Homo sapiens: one gene and its partner. The protein of the gene in region 1 interacts with the protein of each later gene in a biochemical or structural test. Each region holds a gene or a part of one and is shown on either strand. Other genes may lie near its edges.

Evidence for each region. Proteins that work in one complex are often made in the same cells at the same time.
Region 2: the proteins of NBR1 (region 1) and ACAD10 interact in a test that uses a peptide from one of them, tested with the Homo sapiens proteins (one study listed by BioGRID).

Annotation. Positions count from the first base shown.
Region 1 is NC_000017.11:43,194,366-43,202,789, reverse strand, and holds part of NBR1 (next to BRCA1 gene 1 protein), read right to left. Parts: coding exon 8,291-8,424; intron 7,827-8,290; coding exon 7,751-7,826; intron 6,310-7,750; coding exon 6,199-6,309; intron 5,849-6,198; coding exon 5,684-5,848; intron 2,624-5,683; coding exon 2,182-2,623; intron 1,105-2,181; coding exon 1,010-1,104; intron 136-1,009; coding exon 78-135; intron 1-77. UniProt on the Homo sapiens protein: Ubiquitin-binding autophagy adapter that participates in different processes including host defense or intracellular homeostasis.
Region 2 is NC_000012.12:111,744,341-111,752,052, forward strand, and holds part of ACAD10 (acyl-CoA dehydrogenase family member 10), read left to right. Parts: intron 1-302; coding exon 303-703; intron 704-1,803; coding exon 1,804-1,944; intron 1,945-2,708; coding exon 2,709-2,846; intron 2,847-2,954; coding exon 2,955-3,045; intron 3,046-3,976; coding exon 3,977-4,135; intron 4,136-4,832; coding exon 4,833-5,005; intron 5,006-7,712.

The sequences.
Region 1 (8,424 bases):
TGAGAGGCTCTTTTAAGCAGAAGGAATACAAGAATATCCACCTGCTTCTGAAAAAAGAGACTGCACAAGGTTGTTACCTTGAGTGGTCATAGCTCTTCTGTCTGCTGTTTACAAGTCCTGATGAGCCTCTGGGCTCTAAAAGCAAAAGAGCTGTTGGTTAGATGCAGCATCCATAAGCACCTACTGTTTCCTAACTCACAGCAAGGCTATTATTGAGGCAGGTGGCAATCTGATCACAGTGTTTGAAGTCTTTTTTTTTTTTTTTTAAAGTATTTGGGAAGTTTTAAGGGTAGTTTAAGTGATAAGGAGAAACTGTCCAGAAATGCAATGCAAGATGATTGTTTATTGAATCAGAAAAATCAACTCTATAATCCTAACACACTGATATATTTTGTAGTAAGAAAACAGACTCACAGCCATTAGAAACCTGCTGAACTGCTAGTCAGGAAAGGGGGAGATGGAGCTGGAACCTAGATTGTTTGGCTCCAAAGCCTGTGTTCTTTCCACTACCTCTATGAGGTCTAACAATATATTCAGCCAGAGAATAGAAATTAGAGTATGCAGGAGGAGCATGGAGAGAGTGAAGGGCAAGTTTTTTTTTTTTTTTTTTCAGACGGAGTCTCGCACTGTTGCCCGGGCTGGAGAGCAATGGTGCGATCTCGGCTCACTCCAACCTCCGCCTCCCAGGTTCATGTGATTCTCCTGCCTCAGCCTCCCAAGTAGCTGGGATTACAGGTGCCCGCCACCATGCCTGGTTAATTTTTGCTATTTTTTAGTAGAGACAGGGTTTCACTATGTTGGCCAGGCTGGTCTCGAACTCCTGACCCTATGATCCGCCTGCCTTGGCCTCCCAAAGTGTTGGGATTACAGGTGTGAGCCACCACGCCTGGCCTGTGAAGGGCAAGTTTCAAAAAACCACCAAGAATCACGAAGAGAGAGAGGCTATTTATACCTGGTTTCCATTAGACAGGAGCAGAGAAAAAGAGAAAAAGCTTAGGCTGATCATTACCTCCTCTGATCTGATCAGGGACTGAAGAAACTTCTGGTATGGTAACTGGTAAATCCACTCCTGGGGAACCATGATGATGTACACAAGGAGAGCTCCTTTCAGAAAGACACAATATGGAAAGTAAATTGAAAAGGCACTTATGGCAACAGTGGAGAAATAGTAAACACAGCACAGCAGTGCCAAATTCTCTACAGAGGCTTCACATTTCTGATCCAGATCACATGTCTGGATTTAGGGTTCCATCATAAGGGCTACATTCTACCCCATTTTCCTCTTTAGCCACAGGCAAGCTAGAAATGTTGGCTTCAGTCTGGTCATGTCCCCACCTATATCAAGTGGTGTCAATAAACGGAAATGTCTAGCTTTTGGGGAGAATGGTTTACATTATAGTCAAGGCTCCAGCATTTTCCCTACTATTAGGAGACAAGAATGATTCAGATAGATTCACCAGAGAATTAAAAATAATTAGTTTGGTTTTATAGTGTTTTTTCCCATAATGGATTTAACTTCCTAATTATGACTGTTTGGGTTGAGTTTTTGCTGCCTTTACTGAAGAGTCAATAAAACAAGGAGGGAAGGTCCAGGGATGTTTGTGTTTAAAAACTGGCTCTCAGCCAGGCATAGTGGCTCACACCTGTAATTCCAGCATTTTGGGAGACCCAGGCAGTTGGATCGCTTAAGGCCAGGAGTTCAAGACCAGCCTGGACAACGTGGCAAAACCCCGCTTCTACAATAAATACAAAAATTAGCTAGGTGTGGTGGCCCATGCCTATAGTCCCAGCTACTCAGGGGGCTGAGGTGGGAAGATTGCTTGAGCCTCAGAGGCAGAGGTGGCAGTGAGCCAAGATTGTGCCACTGCACTCCAGCCTGGGCAACAGACTGAGACCCTGTCTCAAAAAAAAAAAAAAAAAAACACAACCAGCTCTCAATAATCAAAATATAAGCAGACAGACTATACTCAGATAATTTAAGGCCAACTAAAACAAATATTTCTTTAAATCCAGAATCCACAAATACTGGGAAATACAACTTTTATTCATCTAAATTCAGACTTTGCTATGGAAAATAGTCTCTTTCCATACTGAGGAAAAAACAGGTTTTGAGATCAGGTCGATTCCTCTCTTTATTTCACCTCTGAAGAACACCCCAGCTGAGGGGGCTGTGAGTGGTACCTGGGCAGTGACGGTGGAAGCTCCACTACCTCTGGGATTAGGGGCACTGTTTCCAGAGTCTGTGAGGTCGTGAGGATGTCACTTATGCTGTGCTCCTGTGGCTGGTTCTCCCCTCCAGGGAGTCTTTCCCCAGCCTCAGCTGGTTCCTGCCCAGCCTCAACCCCAGGCTTGCCTTCAGCACCTCGCTCCAGGCCTGGCTGTGAGAGCGCAGAGCTGTACATAGAATCCCCCAGGGGGCGGCTGGTATCAAAGCACTCAGGCAGGATGATGATGTAATCCTCTGAGGAAGCAGAGGACTGACTTTGAACTTCATCTTTGAGCTCATCCTCCTCCTCCTCATCCTCCTCATCCTCCTCCTCCTCCATGACAGCTTCTTCCTCAGCGATATGGATAATCTCCTCCTTCTCATTTCCAAGTGGTCCTTCAGGCAAGGCAAATGTCACTAAAGGATGAAAGCAACCAATTTTAAGGTGGAAGCTAAAAGCAGGCCTAAGTACTATCCTTACTTGGTAAAGCCTTGTGGATCATAAGCTAGAATTATGAAAGCCAGAGGAGAGGGAAGAACTAAAGGGAAGGGCTGGTTCTGGAACTATGACCATATTCTAAGTTTGAAGACTATGCAAAACAAAATAGAATCAAAGCTCACAGAAACAAGGTAGGCAGAAACACTCAGGTTTCCAAGAAGCTCTATGAATCATAAAAGGAGGCAGCTCCATCCCTTTTTTCCTTTTTATGTGATGGTTAATATACTGAGTAGAGTTTAAACCAAAACTGATACACTAACAGTGCTATAAAAAGAGAAAAAGTTAGGAGATGAGTATTGCAGGATTATATGTCTATCTCCTCCTCTTCTTTACAAAGATGATGCAGTCATGGGAGAAAACTGGCCAATCATGTTTGAGAGGGTAAAAAAGGATAGAAAAAAGCTACCCAGGGCCAGGCACGGTGGCTCACGCTTGTAATCCCAGCACTTTGGGAGGCCAACGTGGGCAGATCATGAGGTCAGGATATCAAGGCCATCCTGGCTAACACGGTGAAACCCCATCTCTACTAAAAATACAAAAAAATTACCCGGGCATGGTGGCGGGCGCCTGTAGTGCCAGCTACTCGGGAGGCTGAGGCAGGAGAATGGTGTGAACCTGGGAAGGCGGAGGTTGCAGTCAGCCGAGACCGCGCTGCTGCACTCCAGCCTGGGTGACAGAGACTGTGTCCCAAAAAAAAAAAAAGCTACCCAGGCCAGGTGTGGTGGCTTACGCCTAAAATCCCAGCACGTTGGGAGGCCAAGGCAGGCAGACTGCTTGAGCTCAGAAGTTTGGGACCAGCCTGGGCAACGTGGCGAAATCCCATCTCTACAAAAAAAAAAAAATTTAGCTCATTGTGGTAGCATGTGGCTGTGGTCCCAGTTGCTTGGGAAACAGAGGTAGGGGGACCCCAGGATGTTGTGGCTGCAATGAGCCATAAACTTGCTACTCGCACTTTAGCCTGGGCGAGTGAGACCTTATCTCAAAAAAAAAAAAAAAATTACCCATAAATCCTATCAGAATAACAGCTGTGAACATTTTGGTACTGTCTTTCCAGACCTTTTTGTTATGTATTTGTACACACATGTGGAAAAAAATATAAAGATATACATGACTGATTGATTTGAGATGGAGTCTCACTCTGTTGCCCAGGCTGAAGTGCAGTAGCATGATCTCAGCTCACTGCAAGCTGCACCTCCCAGGTTCACGCCATTCTCCTGCCTCAGCCTCCCGAGTAGCTGGGATTACAGGTGCGCCCGCCACCACACCCAGCTTATTTTTTGTATTTTTAGTAGAGATGGGGTTTCACCGTGTTAGCCAGGATAGTCTTCATCTCCTGACCTCATGATCCGCCCACCTCGGCCTCCCAACGTGCTGGGATTACAGGTATGAGCCACCGCACCTGGCCACATGTACACTTTATTATTTTTTTTTTTTAGACGGAGTCTCGCTCTGTCACCCAGGCTGGAGTGCAGTGGTGCGATCTCAGCTCACTGCAACCTTGGCTTCCCGGGTTCAAGCAGTTCTCCTGCCTCAGCGTCTTGAGTAGCTGGATCACAGGCACACGCTACCACGCCCAGCTAATTTTTGTATTTTTAGTAGAAATGGGGTTTCTCCATGTTGGTCAGGCTGGTCTCAAACTCCTGAGCTTGTGATCTGTCCGCCTCGGCCTCACAAAGTGCTGGGATTACAGGCGTGAGCCACTGCGCCTGGCCTTACATGTATACTTTAAACAAAAGTAAGATAAATAATATTTAAAGATATAGGTCAAATTTGATTATAATAAAGAGATTCTCCAATATTATTTTGACATAGTATATTTGAATTTTTGGATACTTCTTAAAATATATGCTATTGGTTCTATCTATCTGATACCTAGAAGTTTCTGTTATAAAGGTATTTATTCCTTTTTTTTTTTTTGAGACGGAGTTTCACTCTTGTTGCCAGGCTGGAGTGCAATGGCGCCATCTCGGCTAACCACAGCCTTCGCCTCCCGGGTTAAAGTGATTCTCCTGCCTCAGCCTCCCAAGTACCTGGGATTACAGGCATGTAATCCTTGGCATGTAGCCACCACACCTGGCTAATTTTTAGTATTTTTAGTAGAGATGGGGTTTCTCCATGTCGGTCAGGCTGGTCTCGAACTCCCAACCTCAGGTGATCCACCCGCCTCAGCCTCATAAAGTGCTAGGATTACAAGGGTGAGCCACTGTGCCCGGCCTATAAAGGTATTTATTACAGCAGAATTTAACCTTGAGAAACTTTGTTGGTACTCCTGCTTCTATCCACTGTTTCTGGGACTGCTGCCCTTGGAGAAAGCAGACAACTCAGCTACCCATAGGGGTCTCTGCTAAGGAGCTCTGTCAAATTACAGGAAGATTCCTTACTGCAGAATCCAGGCAGCACAACTGGCTGCTATTCCACTGTGGAATGCAGCTGTAATTCTGCCCCTGAGAAGATGGAGAAATGAGTATGATGGCTTCTTTACTCCTGATGCTCTAATTAGAACAGTCAGGTAGCATACGTAGAGTCTAAAGACACAAACAAGATCAGAATTTCTTTTTTTTTTTTTGAGATGGAGTCTCGCTTTGTCGCCCAGGCTAGAGTGCAGTGGCGCAATCTTGGCTCACTGCAAGCTCCGCCTCCCGGGTTCATGCCATTCTCCTGCCTCAGCCTCCCGAGTAGCTGGGACTACAGGCACCCGCCACGTCGCCAGGCTAATTTTTTGTATTTTTAGTAGAGATGGGATTTCACCATGTTAGCCAGGATGGACTTGATCTCCTGACCTTGTGATCCGCCTGCCTTGGCCTCCCAAAGTGCTGGGATTACAGGCTTGAGCCACCACGCCCCGCCAAGATCAGAACTTCTAACTAAGATCACTCTCCCTTCAGTCTCAGTGAAGAAGAGCACATCTAACTAGTCAAGTCTGGCAGTCACAATTCAGGTGCCACCCTGCTAGGTAGGGGAAATGCAAGGACACTCACTCTGCAAGGACTTCTGTCTGCAAGGAGGGTTGTGGTCTGGGGCAGCATCCAAGGTAAGGGATCGGATTACTGTCTCACACACAAACTGGGTCCCACTCAGGTCTTCTTCTGCTTCCTCCACAGAAGCAATGTTCTCAGCCTTCCTCTTTACTGACACCATAGAATCTGAAAGACACACGAACCTTATCTGCACTGGGTGTTTAAAGTGCTGAGGAACATTCACCAGTCATTACCCATGCTAAAACTAAACCAAGGAATAGCTGCTATCTAAACTTTGTCTGCACTTGGTGTTTAAAGTGCTGAAGAACATTCACCAGTCATTACCCATGCTAAAACTAAACCAAGGAATAGCTGCTATCTGTGCCATGTGAAGGTGAGGAGACTTCAAAACATGAGATGCTACAGAAAGCAAGCCCATTTACATGCTAAGGTAGGGTCAGTAGGGGATAGCTGTAAAATAGGGTATGATATGGAAAGGGAGGATGCAAATACTTTACAAATGTTTAATCCCTTACCAGGAAGTGCTTTAAATCCTGCCCCTTCATTCTCTTCCTCTATCTGCCCCAAGCCTGGCTTCTCTATTAAAGGACTGTCATGTGGCAGAGGAGACATGCAGGGAGTCACATCTGGAGAATGAAGACAGGAGAACCATCAATCAAGAGAAAGCATCATATCATCAACAGTCAGTGTCCAGAAGTAGCAGTTTGTAGGCTTCTTGCCTCCCGCAGGGCTAAAATAAACCAAGATATGCTTTGAGGTCTGTTACAAAAAATTTCTCCAGACCAATAAGTAAGCAAAATATCTCAGATCAATCAATGCAGGAAGAATCACAGTTATTTAGCCTGGAAAGCTGTGGCCAAGACACAAAACCATGAACATAAAGGAACAAAAGGACACAAGTATCTAGAGGGAAAAAAGAGAAGAGGATTCCTTTATAGTGGAAAAGCCTTGCACGAACTTGTTTTATTGCTTTTTTTTTTTTTTTTGAGATGCAGTCTTGCTCTGTCACCCAGGCTAGAATGCAGTGGCACAATCTCGGCTCACTGCAACCTCCGCCTCCCAGGTTCAAGCAACTCTCTGCCTCAGCCTCCCGAGTAGCTGGGATTACAGGCACCTGCCACCATGCCTGGCTAATTTTTGTATTTTTAGTAGAGATGGGGTTTCACCATCTTGGCCAGGCTGGTCTTGAACTTCTGACCTTGTGATCCACCAGCCTTGGCCTCCCAAAGTGCTGGGATTACAGGCGTGAGCTACCGTGCCCAGCCTCTTTTTTTTGTTTGTTTTTTGAGATTGGGTTTCACTCTGTCATCCAGGCTGGAGAGCAATGGCACAATCCTGGCTCACTGCAGCCTCTGCCTCCTGGGATCAGGAGATTCTCCCACTTCAGTCTCCCTGGTAGCTGGGACCACAGGTGCAGGCCACCATGCCAAGCTAATTTTTTTTTTTTTTTTTTTTGAGACGGAGTTTTGCTCTTGTTGTCCTGGCTGGAGTGCAATGGTGCAATCTCAGCTCACCACAACCTCCGCCTTCTGGGTTCAAGCAATTCTCCCGCCTCAGCCTCCCGAGTAGTTCGGATTACAGGCATGTGCCACCATGCCCAGCTAATTTTGTATTTTTAGTAGAGAAGGGGTTTCTCCATGTTGGTCAGGCTGGTCTCAAACTCCCGACCTCAGGTGATCTGCCCGTCTCAGCCTCCCAAAGTGCTGGGATTACAGGCGTGAGCCACCGTGCCTGGCCACACCCAGCTAATTTTTAAAAGTAATTTTTGTAGAGATGGGGGTTTCACCATGTTGCCCAGGCTGGTCTCAAACCCTGGCCTCAAGTGATCCTCCTGCCTTGGCCTCCCAAAGAGCTGGGATTATAGACACGAGCCACCATGCCCAGCATGTTGTTACTTTTGACAAAGGACAGGAAAGAAGAAAAACGGATCCATGATTGCTGCTTTACTATCCTACTGTGGGAGAAATCCTTGCCATTTCCTCAGAATAAAACACTACCAGTGTCTAGGCTGTGGTACTTTTGTGCCTATTAGTAAGACGAACAAGATGAAATGAGTGACATTCTTACCCACAGGGGTGTTGTGGGGCACTCTCTCCAACTCTTGAACAATGTTTATATCCAACAGCTCAAAGGACAGCAGGTCCTATAAAAAAAGACAATGTTAGGCTGTTTGGAGTGCATGCTGGAGCCATGTCTTGATGGGACCTGTAGACCATTTCCACATCATTTCGTATTCAACTCTGTTCAAATTCATGCCTGTCCCCAGACAAGTGAAAACAAGAAGAGTTAAATGGGAATTAGATGTTGAAATAACCCAATAGCAGGAAAGAGAAAATGCAGCAGGTATGAAGGAGAATTAGCTAGGCCAAGGTGAAGAGGCAACTAAAGGGAGTTTGTGGGGAAGTACAGGATTGAGTTCCCAATTCAAAGAGGAAACATCTAGTTTACAAACTTGCTTCCATGGGTGATCTCCTTCCCATTAAATATACCTGACTAGATCAAAGTGGGCATATCTCTGATTTCCTGATTACTGCCTATGGCTCTACCACCTTCTCTCCTGTGCTCTCTCCCTCTGTCCCTTGCCCTTCAAAGTGCTGAATCTTCCACCTGGGCAGTCAGAAGATCCACAGATGGGATGTAGAGCTCCCTCTCACTGGCAACATTTTTTGCCTTCTGTGGGATGCAGGCTGCTGTCCCTTCTGTCTGCTCAGTCACTTCACCAAGCTGTCTTTCTTCTTTAG
Region 2 (7,712 bases), on another chromosome or scaffold:
GAGATCAAGAGCAGGGAGCAGGCAGACCTAAGTTGGACTCTGGCCCCCAGCCCCCTAACTTCCAGCTCGTCCAAGTCACCTCCTTCTCTAAGACTCAGTTTTCTTGCGTGCAAAGTGCAGGTGAAAGCAGTTGTATTGCTTTGGGGATTCAGTGAGCTATAGTGGCTCTTAGCACAGTGTTTGGTACTTAGCAAGTGCTCAGCAAATGGCAATAGCTGCTGAAGTGACAGTGTCATCACATGTTAACATCCCTATGATGGGTCGTGTGGGAGTAATCACTGTTTTTCTTTGATTCTGCTTAGGGCAAGCAAGCTCCACATATGCGGAACAAACTGGAAAGCTGACCGAATTTGTGTCTAACCTGGCGTGGGATTTCGCAGTCAAAGAAGGGTTCCGGGTTTTCAAAGAGATGCCCTTCACAAATCCGTTAACAAGGTCCTACCACACGTGGGCCAGGCCCCAGTCCCAGTGGTGCCCCACAGGCAGCAGGAGTTATAGCTCCGTTCCAGAAGCTTCCCCAGCTCATACCTCAAGGGGAGGTCTGGTTATCTCTCCAGAGAGCCTCTCTCCACCTGTCAGAGAGCTGTATCACCGGCTGAAGCACTTCATGGAGCAACGTGTGTACCCTGCAGAGCCAGAGCTGCAGAGTCACCAGGCCTCAGCAGCCAGGTGGAGCCCCTCCCCACTGATCGAAGACCTCAAGGTAAAGCAGCCATGGTGAGGTGGTAAGACCCCAATACCATGGCATACCCTCCCCGACCCCACCGGGCTCACCTGAACCATCCCAGGCAGTGAAGATACAGGAGCTCCGAGTTGAATGATCTTTGCTTCCATCGTCTCAGAAAGAGCCAGCTCTTCATGACTCAGTTTCCATCTCTTGCTCTTGCTGTGCCTGTGTCACAGGCAGATGGCTCAGGTGTGACTGCACAGCCCAGGCAGTGGAATGCTTGGCCTTAGAAAGCCAGGGCAGGTTAGGCCTATCTGATGGGTATTTGAATTATGTAAATTTGAAACAGTGCTGTATCAGCTAATAAATCTCTCTCTAGAGAACCCGTAATATCACAGCTAGAGGGCCAGATCCACTGTGAGCTGAGTTTCTGTGTTGTCTCCCAGTGCTGTCACTTCAGCTGATAAACAGAAACACCCGCTGTTCCTTATCACGTGAACCTTGGATTGTGTTAGTTTTGAAATTACTTGAGATCTTCAGGAGCATAATGCAATCATCATCTACTTTTCTTTTTTTCTCTTTTTTTTTGAGACGGAGTCTTGCTCTGTGCAACTTCCGCCTCCCAGGTTCAAGCGATTCTCCTGCCTCAGCCTCCCGAGTAACTGGGATTATAGGCACGTGCCACCATGCCCAGCTAATTTTTGTATTTTTAATGGAGATGGAGTTTCACCATGTTGTTCAGGCTGGTCTTGAACTCCTGACTTTGTGATCCGCCCGCCTCGGCCTCCCAAAGTGCTGGGATTACAGGCGTGAGCCACCATCTCTCTCTTTTTTTTTTTTTTTTTTTTTTTTGAGACAGGGTCTCGCTTTGTCACCCAGGGTGGAATGCAGTGGTGTGGTCATAGCTCACTGCAGTCTCAACCTCCTGGGCTCATGTGATCCTCCCACTTCAGCCTCCTGTGTAGCTGGGACCACAGGCACAGCCACCATGCCCAGCTCCTCATATCATTTTTTTGGGCACACGTGCATGTTTGGTTGTCTGCCTTGTTTCCTCCAATCCCTTTCATTGTTTTCCACGGTTCAAAATAAAATGAAATCTTCCACTGTGGTTTCCTGACTTATTTTCCCCATGATAGGAGAAAGCCAAAGCTGAAGGACTTTGGAACCTTTTCCTACCCTTAGAGGCTGATCCCGAGAAAAAATACGGAGCAGGACTGACCAATGTGGAATATGCACATCTGTGTGAGCTCATGGGCACGTCCCTGTATGCCCCCGAGGTACCTTCTTTAAAGTTTTCCTCAGTGTGTGGGAACATCCTGATCTTCATAAGAACTCAATCCTAAACAGATAAACCAGATTCAGAAGCACTGGCATGAACTTGAACTTTTTTTTTTTTTTGAGATGGAGTCTCGCTCTGTCACCCAGGCTGGAGTGTAGTGGCGAAATCTTGGCGCACTGCAACCCCTGCCTCCTGGGTTCAAGTGGTTCTCCTGCCTCAGCTTCCCAAGTAGCTGGGACTACAGGCATGTGCCACCACACCTGGCTAATTTTTGTATTTTTAGTAGATACAGGGTTTTACCATGTTGGCCAGACTGGTCTCAAACTCCTGACCTCAGGTGATCCACCTACCCTGGCCCCACAAAGTGCTGGGATTACAGGCGTGAGCCACCATGCCCATCCAATTTGAAGCTTGAAATATTAATGTGAGAAGGCCAGGCATGGTGGCTCACACCTGTAATCCCGGTACTTTTGGAGGCCGAAGTGTGGGGGATCACTTGAGGCCAGGAGTTCGACACCAGCGTGTGCAACATAGAACTCTGTATGTACAAAAAAATAAAAAATTAATCGGGTGTGATGGTGCATACCTGTAGTCTCAGCTGCTTGGGAAGCTGAGGCATGGGAGGATGGCTTGAGCTGAGGAAGTCGAGGCTGCAGTGAGCCATGATCGTGCCACGATACTCCAGCCTGGGTGACAGAGCTTGACTCTGTTTTTTTTAGAAGAGGACATGACAGTCATGGTCACGCTCCTTTTCCTTCTCAGGTATGTAACTGCTCTGCGCCTGACACGGGCAACATGGAGCTGCTGGTGAGGTATGGCACCGAAGCGCAGAAGGCTCGCTGGCTGATTCCTCTGCTGGAGGGGAAAGCCCGCTCCTGTTTTGCTATGACCGAGCCCCAGGTACGTCGCCTGGGCTGCCACCCACTTGCCTGGCCCTGTTGTTGTCGGCCCCACAGGGAACACGGGCTGTCTGCTGGCGTCTCTGACTGGAATATGCTCCCCACTCAGGTTGCCTCTTCAGATGCCACCAACATTGAGGCTTCCATCAGAGAGGAGGACAGCTTCTATGTCATAAACGGTCACAAATGGTGGATCACAGGTATTTGGCCTAAAATGCACTTTCCAAATGCACATCAGGGAGTCTGTGCTGTTAGGCGCGTCTCTCAATGCCTGGGAGGAGCCTCTGCTTTTTCAAGTTGACACAAAGGAGATTCTGTCACTTAGCGCCCCCAGCAGAGGCAGCTGGGAGAATAGGAGGGTAATCCGTGGAGCACACTGTTCTCAGAGGTGGCACTTCACAGGGCAGGGACGTCCCCCGGTGCCCACACATGGACGGATGCCTCCCTGCACATGTGACCCCAGGAATCTCTCCACTTCCTGCTGTTCATTCTGCTTTGGGCAGCTCCCCTTCCTTGGTGGCTTCCTGGCTCCTCGATCAGGTGTGTTACATCCTAAGGGCTAATGACAATCCTGACTTTTAGGGATTGTCCAGTGTTACTTTTGCAGGGCCCCTACAAGTAGCCGTGGAGCTTACCTCCCGGAGCCCATACCTCCCTGGACATTAAGAATGAGCATCCCCATTTTGCAAAGGAGGAAACCGCACTCAGACTTAGGTCCCTTGCCTGGGGTATGAGCCCCCAGCCAGCAAGTAGAGAACCCAGAGTCAAAGGTTCACCTGATTCCAAGGCCCGGGCCCAGAGCCGTTATGTGTGCACCACCTGTGGGAGCCGAGCCAGCTGGCAGGGATCAAGTAGCGGTTTTCATCCTCTTGTCTCTAAATTATATTTTCTACTCTATGTGATGCTTTTAAAAACTTGCTCTTATGATGTTGGATTCATTCCTCACTGGGACAAAACCCAATTTGCTCTTATTTCTGGTCAGCAGTCTGCAGATGCTCATCTGATTACATGGAGCCTTAAAGAGCTCTGTCTGCTTCCTTACTGTGCCTTTCTTGGGCCAGGACCACGTGTGTAGAGATTTGATGGCCCTGGTGTCAGATGATGGGGTCTGTCTCTCTCCTTTCCTGGCAGGCATCCTGGATCCTCGTTGCCAACTCTGTGTGTTTATGGGAAAAACAGACCCACATGCACCAAGACACCGGCAGCAGTCTGTGCTCTTGGTTCCCATGGATACCCCAGGGATAAAAATCATCCGGCCTCTGACGGTGTATGGACTGGAAGATGCACCAGGTGAGACCTCCAGGGGCGGGTCACCCCTGGGTGTGGGTCTGGTCCCCAGGAAACACCACTGAGGGGCCCCTGCTCTTGTTCAGGACTTGCCACATCCCACGTCTGAGGGTATGATGACATTTGGAGTCACATGCTCCTGCATTTCATTTCCATACATGAATATCAACCATGCAGGCGGATTTCAGACAGGCATTTATGGATTTTTTTCCCTCTTCTAAACTTAGAAAGTAATCAGGAGTCTGTGACACAGGAAGCCATACAGGGCAGACGCAGGAAGTGGACCCCAAACCTACTCTTCCAGGCCCCAGTGTGAACAGCTGACCTCTAGGCCACAGCCCTGGTTTGGTCCGCTCCCAGTTTGGTTCTCTGCTAATAGTGTTCACATTTTTACTTTCAGTGTTTTCATAGGATCACTACATTGTCACAAACCACTAGGAGCTTCAGCTTAAGGTGGCATTATTATGTTTTTATAAAAGGAATCACAGAATAGTCATTTGCCATTATAAATCAGTGATTCATTTTCTGTGTTTAACAGGCTGTTTCCTGCCGTCCTTTTCCCTTTAACCATGTCCCAGTAAGAAGGCTAAATAAAGGGCAGGGACATTGCCAGCAGATAACCCAGACTGAGGTGAGGAATAAACACATCCAAGGAAAATGACTATGGCTATTGCTCACAGTGATCGTTTGGGTCTTTCAGGTGGCCATGGTGAAGTCCGATTTGAGCACGTGCGTGTGCCCAAAGAGAACATGGTCCTGGGCCCTGGCCGAGGCTTTGAGATCGCCCAGGGCAGACTGGGCCCCGGCAGGATCCATCACTGCATGAGGCTGATCGGGTTCTCAGAGAGGGCCCTGGCACTCATGAAGGCCCGCGTGAGTGCTTTCCCCCGCACCCAGCACTGACTCAGAACCACCACCTTCTGCTTTGCTGTCGGACTTCAATTCCTACCTGTTTTCTGAGTGCAGTCCTAGCAGGTGAAGCAAGGTGATGTCCTTGCCAAGAAGTTGCATTCCTGTCTGCTTTGCATCTGCTACTTTGCTGCAGTTTGGATTCAGAGCAGAATGGACCCCACTCTGTCGAGGTGACCTGAAGGGAAACGCCAGGCTCTGTAGCAGCAGAGGCAAGGTTCCAAGGTGTAAAGGTCATGCTGCTAGCACATTATTAAAAATCAGTCTGGGTGCAATGGCTCACAGCTATAATCCCAGTACTTTGGGAGGTCTAGGTAGGAGGGTTGCTTGAAGCCAAGCATTTGAGACCAGCCTAGGCGAAAAAGAGAGACTCAGTCTCTACAAAAAAAAAAAAAATTTTTTTTTTTTTTTTGAGATGGAGTCTTGCTCTGTCACCAGGCTGGAGTTCAGTGGTGTGATCTCGGCTCACTGCAACCTCCACCTCCCGGGTTCAAGCAATTCTCCTGCCTTAGCCTCCCAAGTAGTTGGGACTACAGGCACGTGCCACCACGCCCAGCTAATTTTTGTATTTTTAGTAGAGACAGGGTTTCACCATGTTGGCCAGGAAGGTCTCGATCCCTTGACCTCGTGATCTGCCCGCCTCGGGCTCCCAAAATGCTGGGATTACAGGTGTGAGCCACCGTGCCCGGCAAAAAAAAGAAAAAGTTTTTTTTGTTTTTTTTTTTTTTGAGACGGAATCTCACTCTGTTGCCTAGGCTGGAGTGCAGTGGCGCGATCTTGGCTCACTGCAACCTCTGCCTACTGGGTTCACACCATTCTCTTGCCTCAGCCTCCCGAGTAGCTGGGACTACAGGCACCCGCCACCATGCCTGGCTAATTTTTTGTATTTTTAGTAGAGATGGGGTTTCACCATGTTAGCCAGGATGGTTTCGATCTCACCGTGTTAGCCAGGATGGTCTCGATCTCCTGACCTCATGATCCGCCCACCTCAGCCTCCCAATGTGCTGGGATTACCGGCGTGAGCCACCGTGCCTGGCCAAAAAGAAAAAGTTTTAAGTGCCAGGCATGGTAGCATGTGTCTCTAGTCCCAGCTACTCAGGAGGCTGAGGCAGAAGGATCGCTTGAGCCCAGGAGTTTAGGGCTGCAGTGAGCAGTGATCACACCACTGCACTCCAGCCTGGGTGACAGAGTGAGACCCTGTCTCTTTAAAAATAAATAAATAAATAAAAATCAGACACCAGGGAGATCCCATGTTGCTTGTTTTTGTCCCTAGGCTTCCATCATCTGGCCTGTACCACCCTCCTCCACAGCACATCCAGAAAACTTTATTCGGCCATAATCCTACCACCCCCAAAGTTTGGAAACCTAGGTTAAAAGACAGCTGCTTCCAGGACAGGAATTCAAATTGGTGATTATCAATTTCAGAAAGGTGACGCAAACCCTGAGACCAAAACCAGTGTCTCACAAGAACTGCTATTGAAAGAACAGAGGCAGTCTGAATTTTTTATTACCGAGCAAACCTGTGATTTACACCCTTTTGAGTTAAGACTGACCAGTTATTTTTTCTTTCTAAGTAAAACGCTCCTGTCTATGGACTCAGGTATGGTGCTTCAGCCCCACATGGAATTAAATTCAGCCTTCTGGCAGAATAATTGGACTGAATGAGTCAGACAGAAGTCTCCAGAAAGTGCATAGCATGAACATGGCACCTCCACTGAAGACTTGGTTGGAGTAATTAGGAATCTACAAAAGATTTGCTACAAGGAGGTTCACCACAGTGCTTATTGAAATAGCAAAATTCTGAACAACCTATAAGGCTAACAATGACTGTTGGCCAAATAAAACACAAGATGGCATACAGTGAGACTTTAAATGATGCTGTGGAAATCTATTCCTTAACATGGAGAAATTGCTCACTATATACACTTAAATTTAAAAAAAAAGACTGTGGCCAGGTGTGGTGACACTCCCAGCACTCTGAGAGGCCGAGGCAGGCAGATTGCTTGAGCCCAGGAATTTGAAACTAGCCTGGGCAATACGGCAAAACCTCATCTCTATAAAAAATAAGGCTGGGCGCGGTGGCTAACGCCTGTAATCTCAGCACTTTGGGAGGCTGAGGTGGGCGGATCACTTCAGGTTAGGAGTTTAAGACCAGCCTCGCCAACATGGTGATACCCCGTCTCTACTAAAAATACAGAAGTTAGCTGGGCATGGTGGCACATGCCTGTAATCCCAGCTACTTGGGAGGCTGAGGCAGGAGGATCACTTGAATCCAGGAGGCGGAGGTTGCACTGAGCTGAGATTGCACCACTGCACTCTAGCCGGAGTGACAAAGCAAGACTCCATCTCAAAAAAAAAAATTAAAATTAAAAAATTAAAAATAGTAGCCAGGTGGGGCTGGGTGTGGTGGCTCATACCTGTAATTCCAGCACTTTGGGAGGCCGAGGTGGGCAGATCACCTGAGGTCGGGAGTTCGAGTCCAGCCTGACCAACATAGAGAAACCCTGTCTCTACTAAAAATATAAAATTAGTTGGACGTGGTGGCGCATGCCTGTAATCCCAGCTACTTGGGAGGCTGAGGCAGGAGAATCGCCTGAACCCGGGAGGTGGAGGTTGCGGTGAGCCGAGATCGCACCATTGCACTCCAGCCTGGGCAACAAGAGCGATACTC